2 separate regions of the Homo sapiens genome follow, and region 2 is linked to region 1. The links come from fine-mapping of genetic effects on gene expression. A gene starts in region 1. The other region holds a variant in brackets. All regions are shown on one strand. Distances are between the middles of the regions.

Region 1 (8,333 bases):
CTGTAGATATTGTTTTAGCACTTGGTTTCATGGGCACATGACAGCTTTTTATTTTTTCTGATAAATGTGCAGGTTTCCTGTATATTTTTAATGTCTCCAGTTCTTTTACTTCCTTTAGCAAATGACATTTTACCTTGTATCTTAGTCCATTAAGGCTGCTACAGCAGAATCACACAGCCTGGGTGGATTCTAAACCACAGAGACCTGTCTCACAGCTCCGGAGGCTGGAAGTCTGAGACCAAGGTGCTTGCCGATGCGGTGTCTGCAGGGCCCTCTTCCCTTCCAGAAGACACCATCTGGCTGTGTCTTCACCTGGGGAAAGGGGCAGGGCAGCTCTCAGGGCCTCTTCTATGGGAGAACTCATCCTATTCAGGAGGGTTTCACCCTCATGCCTTCCCAAAGACCAACTGATTTCAGTTTTCCCAAATGATTTCAACGTTTCAGATTTGAGGGGACAGACATTCAGTCTACTGCACCTTGCATTTGGGGACTCTGTGTCCATAAAGACTCCAAATTGTCCAAACTGAATTTAACAATCAGGTAATGATCATCAGAATAACTCCAGCTAGTTCTGACCCTGAAGGGAAGAGATATTATTTGTTCAAAGTCACATTTCTTTACTCTCCTTTCCTAACGTAATCTACTATTTAAACAGAATTATAACATTACATATTAAGTCTATCCTAGTGGGAGGATAATGACACTTATTGAGGTGTGGCCATTACATTTTAAAATACTTATCACTTTATAAGCTTACATTGAAAAGACAAGTAAGTATTTTTTTTCAGGTGTACTGATGAATTAAAAAACAGTGACAAAAAGCAAATATCTGCTGTGCATCAACCATGGGACATTGTTTTAGGGCCCTAGAGAGGATGGGGGTGCAAACAGGATCAGGGCATCATCCTGACCAGGCAAAGAGCTCAGCATCAATGGGGCAAATATCTATCTACAAGAGTTCTTGCGATCTACGGAAAATGGCAGTAAGGATGTGATTAGCAAAACCAAAGTACCAAGGAAGAAGAATAAAGGGAGGAACTCAGTATAAGCAGATACGCCACATGGAGAATGAGCCATCTGACCTGACATTTCAGGAGGTGACATCACCAGGTGGAAAAGAAAGATGTATGTCCCTAGATGCAAAAGCTCGAGAGAGCCTTGCTGGTGACTAAGACCCTGGGTGCCGAGGCTTGAGAAGAGCAGTGTCTGGATCTGGTCTGAGAATTGCAAACAGTGTGCTGTGGCCTACAGATGAGGTCCCGAAGCTTTGATCTCTGTGAATTCCTTTTTATCCCATTCTACTTGGAACAACAATACAATATCAATCTTCCTCCGCTGCCCCTGGGTGTGCTTCTCCCAGCCAACAACCTTCCAGAGATTGCCACCAATTACAGGAAAAAAATCCGTACTACTCCAGCAGGAATTTAAAGCCTCCTTCTTTCTCTGTCCCCCACCTCTGTGGTCTGCCTTCCACTCCTCTCCAGTAGAGGTGTGCTGGATCCACACACGCCTCCCTTATGCCTATTACAACATTGCTCCTGCCGGGAAACGTTTCCCAAATTCAACCCCATTAAAGGGAGGAGAGGCAGGAGGCTGAGGACTCTACATTTATCCAACAAAGAGAAAATGGATCTCTTAATTAGACAGTGGCAGTTGGCAAGGATTGGCACCTGTTTATTTTTGACCAAGAAGAATCAATCATAGGCTCTAGAGCAGCAGGAGACTTCTGAGGTGATCTCATTGAGGGACTATGTGGCATTTGAATCTTCCTTATAAAAGAGTAAAGAGAACACTGCTCTACTATAATTTTAACCCCCTTTGAGGGAATTTGTTGCCTTGCAAGGCAATGTATCTACTTGCTATATAGTTTTCTAATGCAAATCAATAAAGTGACTCCACTATAAACATTTGCAAAGTTTGTATAGTCTCATAATAGTAAAATAAAATAGTAAAATTTACATGATTTATTTATTTCTGAATTTCTGATCACATAACTGTATCTTAAAACAGGGCCAGCTTAGCACTATCATACATCAATGAATTTCAATGTAGGCAAATTGCCGTAAATAGAATTGACATATTTGAAGTGGACAGATTAACGTTGGAGCAGGACTATGACATTTTCTGTCTTATGAGGTAGTCAGCTCTTTTGACTATTGTTTGAATCAGTGATTTAGAAAGGATTTCACCATTTCCTGTGACTTACTTTAATAATATGCGCTATGTGCATTCATTCTAATTAATGTAGATAATTAATAATTAATTATACTAATTACTAATTAATAATCCTTTCTTATTCAGAAGTTCATTTCCAGAAGGACCTAGTGGGCATTGAAAGTGGGCCAGATGAGTATTAAACTTGACCCACCCATGCTTTGGAGACTTTGATAAGTCTGTGCTTTAATTAAATGGTAAAGTTGGGGTTATGAAGCTCAGGTAATTAAAAATGTATTTTTACTTAAATTGGGATATATGGGAATTTAATGATCTATACAGGAAATTATGGAGTATACATAATATTTGGAACGTGATTCAAAATGCTTTAGCTCATAAAGTACTAATATGATTTCATGATAATCTCGAATATAGACTAGATAAATTCCTGTTTGAGATAAGATACAGGACAGTGCATTCTTAAGCAGGTCCACACTAGTTAGAAAGAATATGGCTGAAGAAATACATTTTCTATATGGCTGTTATAGGAAAGATTCTCCTATTCCTATTAAGAACATAGCAAAATTAACTCCAGATACATGGGCTCTGTTAATTAAAATTGATTAGTTATGGAAATGCAGCTTAACTAATACTGTTTAGTTAAAATCTGCTCCCGGGAACCTTCCTGCAATTCTTATCTCCTGCTCTTAGAGCCCCTCAGACCTCTGGGCCGATCCCCTCTGCACCAGCCCTGCCGTGAGGGCGGGAGAAGCAAAGGACCCCCAGCTCTCAGATCCACCCATCCTGCACTTAGAGCACTCCACCAACCATTTTCTCTGATTAGAACATGTTTTTGTCTTGCCCTCCATCCAGAGGTGCCCTCAGCTCCTGAGAGGGGGTTCCTGGCCAACAGCTAAGAGGGAAGGAGCTCTGCTGGCCTGGGTCCTCTGCCGGCTTCTGCTGCAATGCCAGTGACATGCAGAGGTCACCTGCGCCAGACACACCCCAGGTAACTCCTCAGGTTACTCCCCAGGAGCTACAGCATGTGCCAGCGCAGGAGCAGGCAGAGTCTGTGGCATTATACCCAGCTGGTGGGTGTAGATGATAGATGAGACAGACCAGTCACCACAGCCCACAGATGTAGAGAGACAGACCAGTCAGCCCCCATGCCGGCATATGTGGACTGGACAGACATCACCTCTGGCCAGCACATGCAGAAGAGACAGGTCGTAACCCCCAGCCGGCAGGTGCAGAAGGGACAGGTCATAATCCCAGCCAGCAGGTGCAGAAAGGATAGGCATCACCCCCGACCTGGCAGGTACAGAAGGGACAGGTCATAATCCCCAGCCAGCAGGTGCAGAAGGGACAGGTCATAATCCTTGTCTGGCAGGTACAGAAAGGACAGGTCATAATCCCTGGCTGGCAGGTGCAGAAGGGACAGGCGTCACCCCCACCAGCAGGTGCAGAGGTGCCGTTGCAGCAGTTGGATGTGAGGCCAAGAAGCAGAAGCTAAGGGAGGGGGTCTGGGGCATCCCTGGAGCTCAGAAGCCAAGGCCCGTGCCTGCCCCAGGGCTGGTGCCATACATAGTTCCAGGTACTGGGGACGGAGGGTAGCCGATGGGGCCCTGAGCAGGACGTGCCTCTTCTGGACTTGACCACAGAACCCAAGCATGGTAAGTGTGCCTTATGGATGCCATCAGGTTGGCGCAATTCCACAGGAAATGGACCATCAGCCCTTCCTTGGCCCTTGGACTCTCCTTCCCGCCCCCACTGTGGGGGAACACTGCCTGTTCCCTGTGCTCCTGGGGGAAGGGTCTGGGCTCTGGGGTCAACCCTGCTCATGCCAGGCCTGGGTGGAGGCAGCTCCGCGGTGTGCTCTCTTAGTGCTCCCCCCTGTGCTACCTCGCCTGTGCTTCCCCTGTTCCTCTCATGCTCTCCCCAGTGCTCCCTTTGTGTTTCCTCTATGCCCCCTTCTATGCTCCCTCCCATGCTCCCCTCCATTCTCTCCTCTTGTGCTCCCTTTTGTGCTTCCCTCCCCTTCTCGCTCCATGTTCCCCACCCTCCACACGTGGCTCCCTCTTTGCTCTGCAATCTGAGCTGTGAGGGCCCAGGTGCTGCTCAGCTGCCAGGCCCGTGGCCCTCCCATCCTTTTCCTAACCCTCCTCTACTCCTTCCTGGGAGCCCCCACACCAGTGCTGCCAGGGAGGCCTAGACAGCCATGCCCGCTGTCGCACTTTCATAGTGGGCCAGAAACACTCACAAAAATTTATACTTCCACCTTCCTGTGCTTCCTTGTTTTAATGAGAATGACGCACCATCATTCAAGGTTTAGTAAGCAGCGAAATACGTCTCAGCTGTGCGAGGCTCATGTAAATCACCTTTAAGAAGTGAATGAAAGTGTTACATGTGCATGACAACTAAAGCTTTGTGAGACAGCCAGAGCCTGTTTCCCCCATAAAGATGTTTACACCTGACATGTGTGTGAGAATAGTGCCAGGAAGTTGAGCTCCCTGCTGAGGGTGCGAAGGACAGGAAAAACAGAAACAGAGAAAAAGAAAAGGGGAGTCTGTGTGAGAGAGAATAGACTGAGGGCAGAAACCAAATCAGCTGCCTGGTATAAAAATGTGCTTTGAGATAAGATAAATTATGGGATTTCATGTTAGTCTATATTAGCGTACATGAGGGATAAAATCTACTTCGTTATTAACTGATTTCGTTTAGTTTGCCTTAATTAGAAAAACTATTACAAATCACTATAAATGCAGAATTAACAGGTTGACGAGTGGCAACAAAATAATGAGTCCCATGGTGATAATTATGTAAAATATGTAAAATCAATTTTCTAATCATTGATTTACATAAAATAAAAACGTTAATTTGACTTTGGGTTGCCTGAAGATATTGGCAGCCACCTGAATCTAAATCTTTTCAAACATCTCCAAGATAACTATGCAGATGAGCATGAAGAACAACTTTACGTAGAACTCTTCCCTTGGCAAGCCTGGGAGAGAGAGGTGGTGTGTTTCAATCACCTGCAGGTGAAATAATCAACATACAACAGCAGATCGACTACCTTTGATCCCAAAGGTAACACAGTGGTGGACACTGAGGAAAGTCCAGGCACATGGACAGGAGGGACATGGAGAAAAGGAGCAGGAGCTGCCGTTAAGCAAAACCCACTTTGTGGTGGTAAAACTGCAGAGAAGCCTCCCAGGGGCTGGCAGCTCCAGGGAAGGGAGACATGCATCTCCAGGACCCACGTGGCATGCCCAGAGCTGCTTTGCCTCTGAAGAAAAGGGTAAATCAGAAGGAAGAAGGACCCTTAGGAAGCAGAGGAGTGAAGAAATAAAGAGAAGCAAGAGAGGAAAATGTGGGGTTCTGCAAGACCAAAGAGGAGCAGAAACCAGATGACACACCACTTTCCCCCAGGACAGCAGCGAGAAACAGAATGCTGCTGCACTGACAGAAGAGAGAGCTCTTGAACAAGGAATCCTATCCGCTGCCTCTAACGGTCAGAAGAAATAAGTAAACAAAAGCAGCCCAGCGTTATAAAAAGCTATTAGTAGAAGAAAACACAAAATGAGAATCAAGCCATTTCAGGTGATAAAAATGCACTGCCAAAAAACAACCGTGACAGAGAAGGGAACTGAGCACAATACTGCACCTTAAATTAAATATCCTTACCAAGCAGTTGGTTGAACAAGGAAAAGGACTTTTTAGTAGGAAATATAAAAATGACCAAAACCAAGAATGGTTGGATTGAGTGACAATTTGAGACATTCAAGAAAGGCAAGAAAACAACAAAAATTAAAATTAAAATGATTTATGAGAGTTCTCCAGTGAAACAGAATCCCTGGAAGGAAGAGTGAGCTCACGTAATTATGGGGCTGGCAAGTCCACAGTTTGCAGGTTGGGCTGGTGGCCAGAGACCCAGGAGGGCCAACGCTCCAGCTGGAGTCTGAAGCAGGTGGGCTGCAGAGTTCTCTCAGAGCCAGGGAGTGGGGGTCTTTAGGCCTTTAGGGGTGCAAGGCCTGGTGCAACCCCCATGTTATGGAATCTGCTTTTTACTTAAAGTCCACCAAAGTAAATTAATCTCAGGCACTGACACCCTCATGGAAACACCCAGAATAATGTTTGACCAAAAACCTGGGCACCCCATAGCCCAGGCAAGTTGACACATAAAATGAACTATCAAAATGAGTTATATTAAAAAAAGGGTCAGAGTGACATTGGTGACATGCAAGAGAGCCAACAAAGAGCCAGCATATGTCTAACTGGAGTCCTGAACAAACCTAGGGCCAGAGCTAGAGAAACCAGAGTTAGATAACTTTTCCAGAAACAAAAGAAGCATTGACGCTACATGTCAGAAGGGCCTACTGAGACCTGCAGGAACTGGCCTGGCATATTTAACCAAGACATAGCCAGATAAAACTATTGAACTTTAAAGATAATGAAACACAATCCTAAGGGCCTGAAGATAAAATATCACATTCCTCATCCAGGCCAAAGAACAAAGTAGGCATCTGACTTCTCAAGAGTGACCTGCAGAGTGAGGCCACAGTGGGGCTGCATCCCAGAAACCCCCTAATGGAGGTGTGAGCACAGGATCCTATGCCCAGCCTCTTGTCTTCTGCCCAATTTTGTAGTTGTTTACATCAGAACGTTAAGCCTGCCTCAGTTACTTCATCATGGCTGGAAAGATAATCAACATCTACTGCTTTTTTTAAATTAGAAAAACACAAAACAATGTTTTAGCATCTTCTTGTAAAATAATTTTTTTAGTGAAATTTTAATTGAACAAATGAATAAATGAACAATCAGGCCCTTCCTTTTTTTTTTTTTTTTGTTTGTGTTTTGAGACACAGTCTTGCTCTGTCACCCAGCTAGAGTGCAGTGGCATGATCTCAGCTCATTGCAACCTCTGCTTCCCCAGGTTCAAGCGATTCTCCTGCTTCAGCCTCCTGAGTAGTTGGGATTACAGATGCCCGCCACCGCACCCAGGTAATTTTTGCATTTTTAGTAGAGATGGGGTTTCACCATCTTGGCCAGACTGGTCTCGAACTCCTGACCTCATGATCCACCTGCCTCGGTGTGAGCCACCGCACCTGGCCAGGCCCTTCCTTTTATAATAATATATACAACTCATGGGTTTTAAACCTTTCACTTTACTCTAGTCACAGATGGACTCTGAGAGAGAAAATAGCACCCCTGTCCAAACATCACATGCCTGGCGGAGGAACGCAGCCTGGCCTGTGCAGCCGAATGTTGGAGAGTGCACCTTCCTCTCTTATTTTGTTTTATTTCCAGGGAAAGGGAAAGGAAGACATGCAGGTAATTTATCAACTAAATTACAGGCTGACTGATAATAAAGCTCCCCGCCCCACAAAAAAAGGAAATGATTGTGGGGTTTTAGTGGGTTTTCAATGTTCTTTCTTTACTCTCCACCATGAAAATCTATCATTAAAATACATTATTTAGTTTTTGCTTTAAAAGTTTAGATAATTCTACCAGTGAAAATGAACTTTCTAAAAATTCTACATAATTTGTCACTGGGTAGAAGTCCACAAATCTACCAACTTCCCACTGATTTTAGTCTTTATTGTATGATTTCCTTGTGCTGCCTACCAGAATTTCTTGCAGCCAGTGGGTAACTCAAGTCATACAATGTTAGAATAATAAAGGATTTTAGACTTTTTCCAAAATCTTCAGTTGTATATTTTCATCACCAAATAAAGTGTAGTATCCAAAGCAAAATTAAAGTAACATATTCCTTATCTTCTATCTAGAGCCAATACATATGGACTTCATTTATTGGATCATTGAATATGTTTTCTTTAAATATCAAGAAGCAATAACATCACAACTATTAACCTACCTATATGGTTTACATTCTAAATGAAATGTCAGGTTATGTATGTGAATAGAGACATATGAGGATCAATATTCTCCCATTTAGACTTTCAATCATGAATTGCAAAAGCATTTCTACTATGAATCATAGAAATATTTATTGCATGATAATAAAAGATTTGTATCTAAATACAATTTCATCAGAAAAGCAATGTAAAGATATTTTTGACTCAAGTTTTCATTTTAGGCTTTAATGAAATGCATGTATCAAGATATTATACATTTTATATAAACACTTTGATGATGATATTTGGCTTTCAAAGAAAGGT
Region 2 (8,333 bases), 33 kb after region 1:
CCTGGATGCAGGCTCCTGATTCTCTGAGCCCAGGAGAGGGTGGCTGAAGACCTGGGTTTTGAGGCAGGGGTCTCTCCTCCTTCCCCTAGTTGCCCTAACTCACCAACTCTGATGGAGAACTGGCTGCAAAGAGCATGACGCCCTCTTGCTTAGCCTCAGCTATAGAGAGCTGAGGGATCCTGGATCCAATGCTGTGCCTGATCCCAATCCCCACTCCCTCAGGCCATCCCGGACCTGCTTAGTTAGGAGAATTCTATGAACGACTGTCGCAGTGTACAGGTGCCCTTCGGAAGGTGGGCTTTTGGGGGTGAGTTGTTTATAATCCTGGCTAAGACGCAGCATCTGGGATGCGTGGGCCTTCAATCCGTCGCAGGATCACCCTGAGAACATGCTCTGTGAGGTCAGGAAGACTCTGGGATTCTGCAGGAGCAGAAACCAATTGCAGAAGCCGCCTCCCGCAGAACCGGCCACCCTGCTGGGGCTCCCCCGTCACCTCATTCTCGCATCCAAGTCTGCAGCCCGTGTGTCTGATGGTAAAGCCTAGGTTCCCATGGGGATCTCGGCAGCAAGGATCTTGGAAGGGCAGAGTCGAGCTCCCTGGCAGACTCCGCAGAAGCCAGAGGGGGCCGATGTTGAGGAAGCGAATTATCCATGTCCGCCACAGCTGTGTGGTCTGCACCCCAGATACAGCAGGGTGCGTCTCACATGGGCCTGGCCTCACGATGGGCAGCGTCCAGCCTCTCCAGCCTCATTCCACCCAGGCTCTGCCCTCATGCACAGTTTCTGAACGTGGGCACCCTCATTCACTGCTCCCTACCAAAGAGGACTCTACATTTTTCCCCGTTGCCAACAGAAAGGATATCTTTAATGTGCTCCTGTGTCTCTCCTTTGCCTGGAAGAGCCTCCTAACTGTCTGTCTGACATCCCCAAAGATCTGTCAATGCACAGCTCAGATGCCTCTCTCCTGATCAGCCTTTTCCAAGATGACTTCTCTAGGAAAGAAGCATCAATTACTTTTTGGCTCCTAAGCATCACGGTTTATTACACAATTGGGTCAAATATTAATATGCTAATAATAAATAGGTATGTTACCCCTCTGTTGATACAACAAGGGATTTTTTAGAAATTCTATACTGTATATGTGATTTGAATTAATTTGGTAGCACCAATGATTGAACTCAGCCCTGCCTACTCTAAGTTGGAATATTTCAATTCACTCTTACTTTCTTTTTATTGTATTTAAGGTGTGCAACATGATGCTTCGGTATACACTTACATAGTAAAGTGATGACTACAGGTGGTAAACAAATTAATATTTCCATCACTTTTCATAGTTGCTTCTTTTATGCAACTAAAACCCACTTCCTTAGCAAATTTTCCATATGTGACACATTATTAACCCCAGTTCTCCTGCTGTACCCTGGATCTCTAGATGTACCCAACCTGCAGCACCGCAACCTTCCGCCTTTAACCCACACCCTGGTCTCGCCGAGCCTCTGGTCCTCCGGCTCTCGTAGCGTTTGGTGCTGCTGGTTTCTTCACTGATTCCTGGAGGTTATCAGCTACGTGTTGAACACCTCTTCTGCTAGATTTTGGTAGATGCAGAAAGCCTTTCTTTTTGTTCTTTCCCTTAAATAATATTCAGGAAAGTAGAAACACAAACAAACCACTATGAGGCAACATAATTTATGCTATGAAGGGAGTTTAAACAAGGTTCCCCAGATGCACAGAGACCAGAGCAGAAAGGCCTGCCTGGGTGTTCCGGGAAGGGTTCACAAGAGAGGCATCGCCGAAACGGAGGGTCTTTGCATCTGTGTAATTAACGCAGAGACAAGGAGCACTTACAGGGCTCCAAGCTCTGCGCAAAGCTTCCAGGCATACACAGTGTCCTCACGGGAAGGTTCAGCAACCCTCCAAGTGAGGGAAGTGAGTCTCTGTAAGAGGCGTGACCACTCAGCTGCTCAGTGACCCAGAGCTGGGCTTTATAAACTTGGAGGAGGGCACAGGGCGCAGAGGGAAACCCAGGCATTGTGGAGTCAGAGCCCATGCATGTGACTCCTGGTTCCGCTGTGTGCCGGCTGTGACATCACTGCATGCAAATTGCCTCACCTCTGCTCGCCAGCAGCCTCAGCTTTGAAATGGGAGTCACCATGGATAGAAGGTGAACGTGGACTTGTGCAGGGGATGCACGTCCAGTGACATGCGGTAAACACGAGCCTCGGCTGTGGTGGAGTGACAGCCCTCAGCCCGTCCCAGTGCACACAGGGCTCCATGCAGTCGTGCTGACCACCTGCGCTTGGTGAGAGGAGGGGCTGGGCACGCCCCTGGTGTGCCCCTTCTTGCATTTAGAATGAGCCCCTGTGCTGAGTGCCAGCCATGATCTGGTGAGTCACAGGCCTGTCCTCAAATATTCCACAGTCGAAGGTGAGAGATGTGCTGCAATGTCTCCCAGTGGCATTGGGCTGAGATGAGCTACAGCAGCTCGGAAAAGGCCCCGGTCAGGGTCAGCCATGCCGGGTGACAGGGCAGCAGGACTGGTCCCAAGTGTGTGTTGCTGGCGGGTGTCAGGCACGGCAGGTGAGGGACTGAGTAAAGGTGAACGCCGCAGGGCTCCTGGGCAACACCACGGTTCCTCCCGTAGTAAAACCTCCCACTTTCATGGGTGCTTCTCTGGTTTTCAGAAGCGGTCTAAGGGTAGATGGTAAACCTGTAAATGATGATGATTTGAATGAAGTGCATTGCTACATGTTAGAGCCAATGCACTTATTTTCAAAAACACAAGCCTAACTCTGTGTGGAAACACCTGGGGTCACCCGCTCACTCACTGTGGGACACCTGGGGTCACCCGCTCACTCACTGTGGGACACCTGGGGTCACCCGCTCACTCACTGTGGGACACCTGGGGTCATCCGCTCACTCACTGTGGGACACCTGGGGTCATCCGCTCACTCACTGTGGGACACCTGGGGTCACCCGCTCACTCACTGTGGGACACCTGGGGTTACCTGCTCACTCACTGTGGGACACCTGGCATCATCTGCTCACTCACTGTGGACTTTTCTAGAAACAACTGATTTCCAGGCATTGCCACCATGCAAGCTTGACTTTCTCATGTGTATTTGGCCTCAGCCCAGGCTTACCAGGGCTGCTGAGATGCTGCAGGGAGGAGCCGCAGTTCAGGTGGGAAGGAAGCTGCCGGGTGTGCACTGTGAGCAGTGAGAACTGGAAAAGGCTCCTGGTCAGAGGCCACCTCGGTGCCCATGGGTTCCCGCCTTGTGACAGAAAGAGCCCTAAAGGAGGGGCTGTGGCCAGGTGGTGTTCCTTATGATTCAGGTTAGTTATTATGCATTATTAGCAACCTGAACCACTTCACAAAAAAAATTTGGTACTTGAGAAAAAAAATGGCCATTTTAGAATGCAACTGGAAAAAAAATTCATGTCCGTTTACAAAGAAATAAGTTTGTCAGGTCTTGAACTGGTTATGAAGTGTTATCCTGAAATGCTGGTTTACAGCCATATTCATAACCATTTTTTCTTTGATTAAATATTTTTATTTAATGTCTTTTGAGAATGTCAGTGAATGGAAGGTCATTTTCTGAAAAACCAGCGAGAGACTCTCCACATGAAGACGGAAATCAATTTGCATCTCTCTGTGTGGTTGTAATGCTGGCATAGACAGGAATTAAATGCCCTTTCTTACTTTACTTCCTGAAGTAGAACTTAGCCTGGGACAGAAATTATTTAATGGGAAGCCTCAAACTGTGACACATTTAATTGATGTAGGGCAGGTAATAATAAGCTTCTCCATCACTGTGCACAAACTGTGACTTTTGGTTTCAAAATGCCTCCGTGCAAAGGAGTGAACCCCCAGGATGGGGTCCGGGGAGGAGGATGGGAGGAAGGGGTTTCCCGAGTGGAGGAGCCGGGCATCGTGGAA[T/G]AGGCACTTGGCAGGTGCAGGAAGCTCGTGCCTGGGTCATTCCAAGGTGCTCTGCTGAGTCTTTGTGTTTCTAGGTCTGGGAAGTATTTAATTATCCATTTCTTAAAAAGCGTATTTTCAAAGATGCTTATTAAAGGCTTTAAAGTAAGTGGCAGTGCTCATCGTCTGAACCTTCTGGAAGAGCCAAAGGGAGCAGGAAGCGGCCTCCCCAAGGCGCATGCAGCCGGCCTGTGTGTGGAGGATCAGAGCTGCTGAATCAAGGCTGGAGACCACAGCCACCCAGAGCACCTGCCATCCTGGCGGGGCCTGGCTGTCCTGCCCATGCCAAAGCCAAGGGGCGTTTGCTGTGGCTCCCTCTCAGCCTGGCACCCGGCCAGTGCCCACACCCTCGTGCCTCCTCCTTCTGCCACCCCTGCTGCCGCGCAGTCCCCAGGAGGGGAGCTGGGCCCTGGGGCTCTGAGCATCACCCTCCGTCCTCCCGATCATGGGCCATGTCATCAGGGCTCTTTTCTGCTGAGCTGTGCCCTGCATCTCTGCATTTTAGCCACCAACCTCTGCCCAGGACCCCAGGCTGGCAGCTAGGCTGGACGTCCCCACAGCTGCCCTTGGGGCCTCAGTCTTGTTCTTGCCTTTGAGGTTCCCTGGGCACATCTCCAGTCCCTGAGGGGTGACAGGCGCCCTGCACTGTTAGGGCCGGGCACTCACTGCCACTGGACCAGCCCCTGTGTCTGTCTCCTGCATCCCCTCCAGTGGCATCCATTGGCCCTACAACATCAGAGGGACTTGGCTCTCCAGGCTGCAGCAGCCATAATCCCACACCTCACTGGTGGCAGCAGCAGTGGTTATTTCGGGCTCATATTGCACTGGGCTGAGGTCTGCGATCTCACACACGTGGAAGGAGCGGTGCCATCCGAATGTGCTTGTGAGAATCGTGACAAAGCCAGGAAGGGCCTCTGCACAGGTGTGGGGTGCGTCGTCTTCTCAAGGCCGATGTCAACGGGAAGAGGCGTGCAGTCCTCTCATCCGGGGTCTGGTGCCCAGACGTGCCATCTTCCTCCTGCCTGTGTCTTCCTCCTGCCTGTGTCATCCTCTTCTGCAGGACGGGAAGACCCCGGAGGCACCGTCTTCCTGCCACCTGTGTCATCCTCTTCTGCAGGACGGGAAGATCCCAGCGCCATCTTCCCGCCACCTGTGTCATCCTCTTCTGCAGGATGGCAAGATCCCGGTGCTGTCTTCCCGCCACCTGTGTCATCCTCTTCTGCAGGACGGAAAGATCCTGGAGGCGCCATCTTCCCGCTGTCTGTGTCATCCTCTTCTGCAGGACAGGAAGATCCCGGCGCCGTCTTCCTGCCGCCTGTGTCATCCTCTTCTGCAGGACAGGAAGATCCTGGCATCTCACACGCCCCTGGCTTATAGGGCTCGGAGGCTACAGTGGGAGCTCAGGGCATGTTTGTTGAGTATTGGAGGTTTTTCAGTCAGGGAAGATATCAATTTAAAAATGAAGTCACACATTCCCCAAGAAGCATTGCTGAATTATATTGGTTTAGTCAACACAAAATACAAGTACACAGGAATAACCGAACCACAAAATGTCAGGCTGTGGAAGTCAGACGGCACCTAATATTAGGATAAATAAAGCAGGTGGAGAGTGAGTGTCCTCTACACTAATGGAGACATTTTAAATTAACTTTGACCAGCAAGTTTTATTATTTTTCCTGTTAAGATCTAGGCAGGCACATGCAATTTTTGCGGAGAAGAGACTCCAGTTTAGGAGCCTGCCATGAGCAGTCATGCAGGTGGCCCGTGGGGAAGTGGCTGACGTCTGTGTCTGCACCATCCTGCGGGGTGTGGATGCCTTGCACACCTGCACCCTAGCTGCACCCCTGCCTGCACCGTGCAGACACGAAGTGGCTGCTCCAGAATGTTTTCTGGATGAGGACATGAGTGAGCAGGACCTGGGGCTGCAGAAAGACTGCTTCTATAGGCTTTATTATTTATTTATTTTTATTTATTTTTGAGACAGTGGCAGGATCTCGGCTCGCTGCAACCTCCACCTCCCAGGTTCAAGCAATTCGCCTACCTCAGTCTCCCAAGTAGCTGGGATGACAGGCATCCACCACCACGCCCAGGTAATTTTTGTACTTTTTTTTAGTAGAGATGGGGTTTCACTACGTTGGCCAGACTGGTCTCAAACTTTCATGCTATTCTGAGCATTATGACTAAATCTTGCACTGTCCTGCTCCATCCTGACCAGGACCGGGTCATCTCTTTGCCCAGCAGATCCATGCTGTGCACACCACATGCCTGTTAGTGGCTTAGTAGCTCTCCTGGGTCAGCAGGTCCACTGATGCAGATCACAAGTGCCTGAGTTCAGGCAGCCCTTATTTTGCTTACCAAGGGCTCCAGATCAGAAGAGCAGTGAGGCTGGCAGCTTGTAGATGGCAAAGAGAAGCTGTAAAGTGCTCCCTTTAAGTGAAAAGGTGAAAGTTCTCTACTTAAGAAGGAAGGAAAAAATTGTATGCTGAGGTTGCTAATATCTACCATAAGAACAAATCTTCTATCTCTGAAATTGCATAGAAAGAAAAAGAAATTCCTGCTAGTTTTGCTGTTGCACCTCAAACTGCAAAAGTTTTAACCACAGGAAGAACACAGGAGGTCGGCACCACACAATTTTCAACAACCAGATCTCCTGAGAATTCACTCACCCTCGTGAGAACAGCAAGGGGGAAATCCGCCCCCATGATCCAGTTACCTCCCACCAGGTCCCACCTCCAGGGGCAAATCCACCCCCATGATCCAGTCGCCTCCCACCAGGTCCCACCTCCAGCACTGGGGACTACAATTCAACATGAGATTCGGGTGGGGACACAAGTCCAAACCATATCAGGTATTGAATGTGTGGGTGGAAGACTTAAGGATAAACAAGTTCTGACTGACGGCCGTCGGGTTTAGTGCCATCCACAGTCCCAGACACCCACCGGGTCTGGAATGTGCCCCGTGAGGATGAGTGGGAGCTACTACATTTCATTTGTCCACAAGGAAACTGGAGCTGAAAGAAGCTGCAGAGTTCCCGAGTCCACACACCCCGCAGGCAGCGCGTTTACGTCAGAGCTCCCGAGTCCACGCACCTCGCAGGCAGCGCGTTTACCTCAGAGCTCCCGAGTCCACCGACCTCGCAGGCAGCGCGTTTACGTCAGAGCGCCCGAGTCCACGCACCTCGCAGGCAGCGCGTTTACCTCAGAGCTCCCGAGTCCACCGACCTCGCAGGCAGCGCGTTTACGTGAGAGCTCCCGAGTCCACGCACCTCGCAGGCAGCGCGTTTACGTGAGAGCTCCCGAGTCCACGCACCTCGCAGGCAGCGCGTTTACGTCAGAGCGCCCGAGTCCACGCATCTCGCAGGCAGCGCGTTTACCTCAGAGCTCCCGAGTCCACGCACCTCGCAGGCAGCGCGTTTACGTGAGAGCTCCCGAGTCCACGCACCTCGCAGGCAGCGCGTTTACATCAGAGCTCCCGAGTCCACGGACCTCGCAGGCAGCGCGTTTACGTCAGAGCTCCCGAGTCCACGCACCTCGCAGGCAGCGCGTTTACCTCAGAGCTCCCGAGTCCACCGACCTCGCAGGCAGCGCGTTTACGTCAGAGCGCCCGAGTCCACGCACCTCGCAGGCAGCGCGTTTACCTCAGAGCTCCCGAGTCCACCGACCTCGCAGGCAGCGCGTTTACGTGAGAGCTCCCGAGTCCACACACCTCGCAGGCAGCGCGTTTACATCAGAGCTCCCGAGTCCACGGACCTCGCAGGCAGCGCGTTTAGGTCAGAGCGCCCGAGTCCACGCACCTCGCAGGCAGCGCGTTTACGTCAGAGCGCCCGAGTCCACGGACCTCGCAGGCAGCGCGTTTATGTCAGAGCGCCCGAGTCCACGCACCTCGCAGGCAGCGCGTTTACCTCAGAGCTCCCGAGTCCACCGACCTCGCAGGCAGCGCGTTTACGTGAGAGCTCCCGAGTCCACACACCTCGCAGGCAGCGCGTTTACATCAGAGCTCCCGAGTCCACGCACCTCGCAGGCAGCGCGTTTACGTCAGAGCGCCCGAGTCCACGGACCTCGCAGGCAGCGCGTTTACGTCAGAGCTCCCGAGTCCACGCACCTCGCAGGCAGTACGTTTACCTCAGAGCTCCCGAGTCCACCGACCTCGCAGGCAGCGCGTTTACGTCAGAGCTCCCGAGTCCACGCACCTCGCAGGCAGTGTATTTACATGGAAATTGGATCGAGGCACTGACGTTTAAATCTTGGCTCCTGCTCCTGCCGTCTAGACAAAGGGCGCACCCATTGCCGTCTCAGACACCAGAGGCTCCCACTTGACCAGGTGAGATTTATCAGCTCCCAGACTGAAGGAGCATACG

Alleles and levels. Alleles are on the strand shown, and positions count from the first base shown. SD is a standard deviation of normalised expression in the study named.
As copies of G replace T in region 2, the expression in prefrontal cortex of the gene that starts at base 3,596 in region 1 goes up (moderate effect, 0.65 SD a copy in CommonMind).

Evidence for each region. PIP is the estimated chance that this variant, and not a neighbour inherited with it, causes the effect. A credible set is the group of variants that fine-mapping cannot tell apart.
Region 2: its variant is the best candidate, but not a certain one, in a credible set for the expression of LINC01939 in prefrontal cortex (CommonMind, PIP 0.55).

Annotation. Positions count from the first base shown.
Region 1 is chr2:900,714-909,046 of GRCh38, reverse strand. It overlaps LINC01939 (long intergenic non-protein coding RNA 1939), which reads left to right and starts at 3,596. Exons shown (of 4, transcript NR_110179.1): 1 at 3,596-3,827; 2 at 7,088-7,155; 3 at 7,329-7,485.
Region 2 is chr2:868,081-876,413 of GRCh38, reverse strand. LINC01115 (long intergenic non-protein coding RNA 1115) reads left to right here and starts at 7,988. Exons shown (of 3, transcript NR_111963.1): 1 at 7,988-8,296. RefSeq lists an enhancer at 6,972-8,171. The variant T/G (reference allele first, on the strand shown) is at 3,938.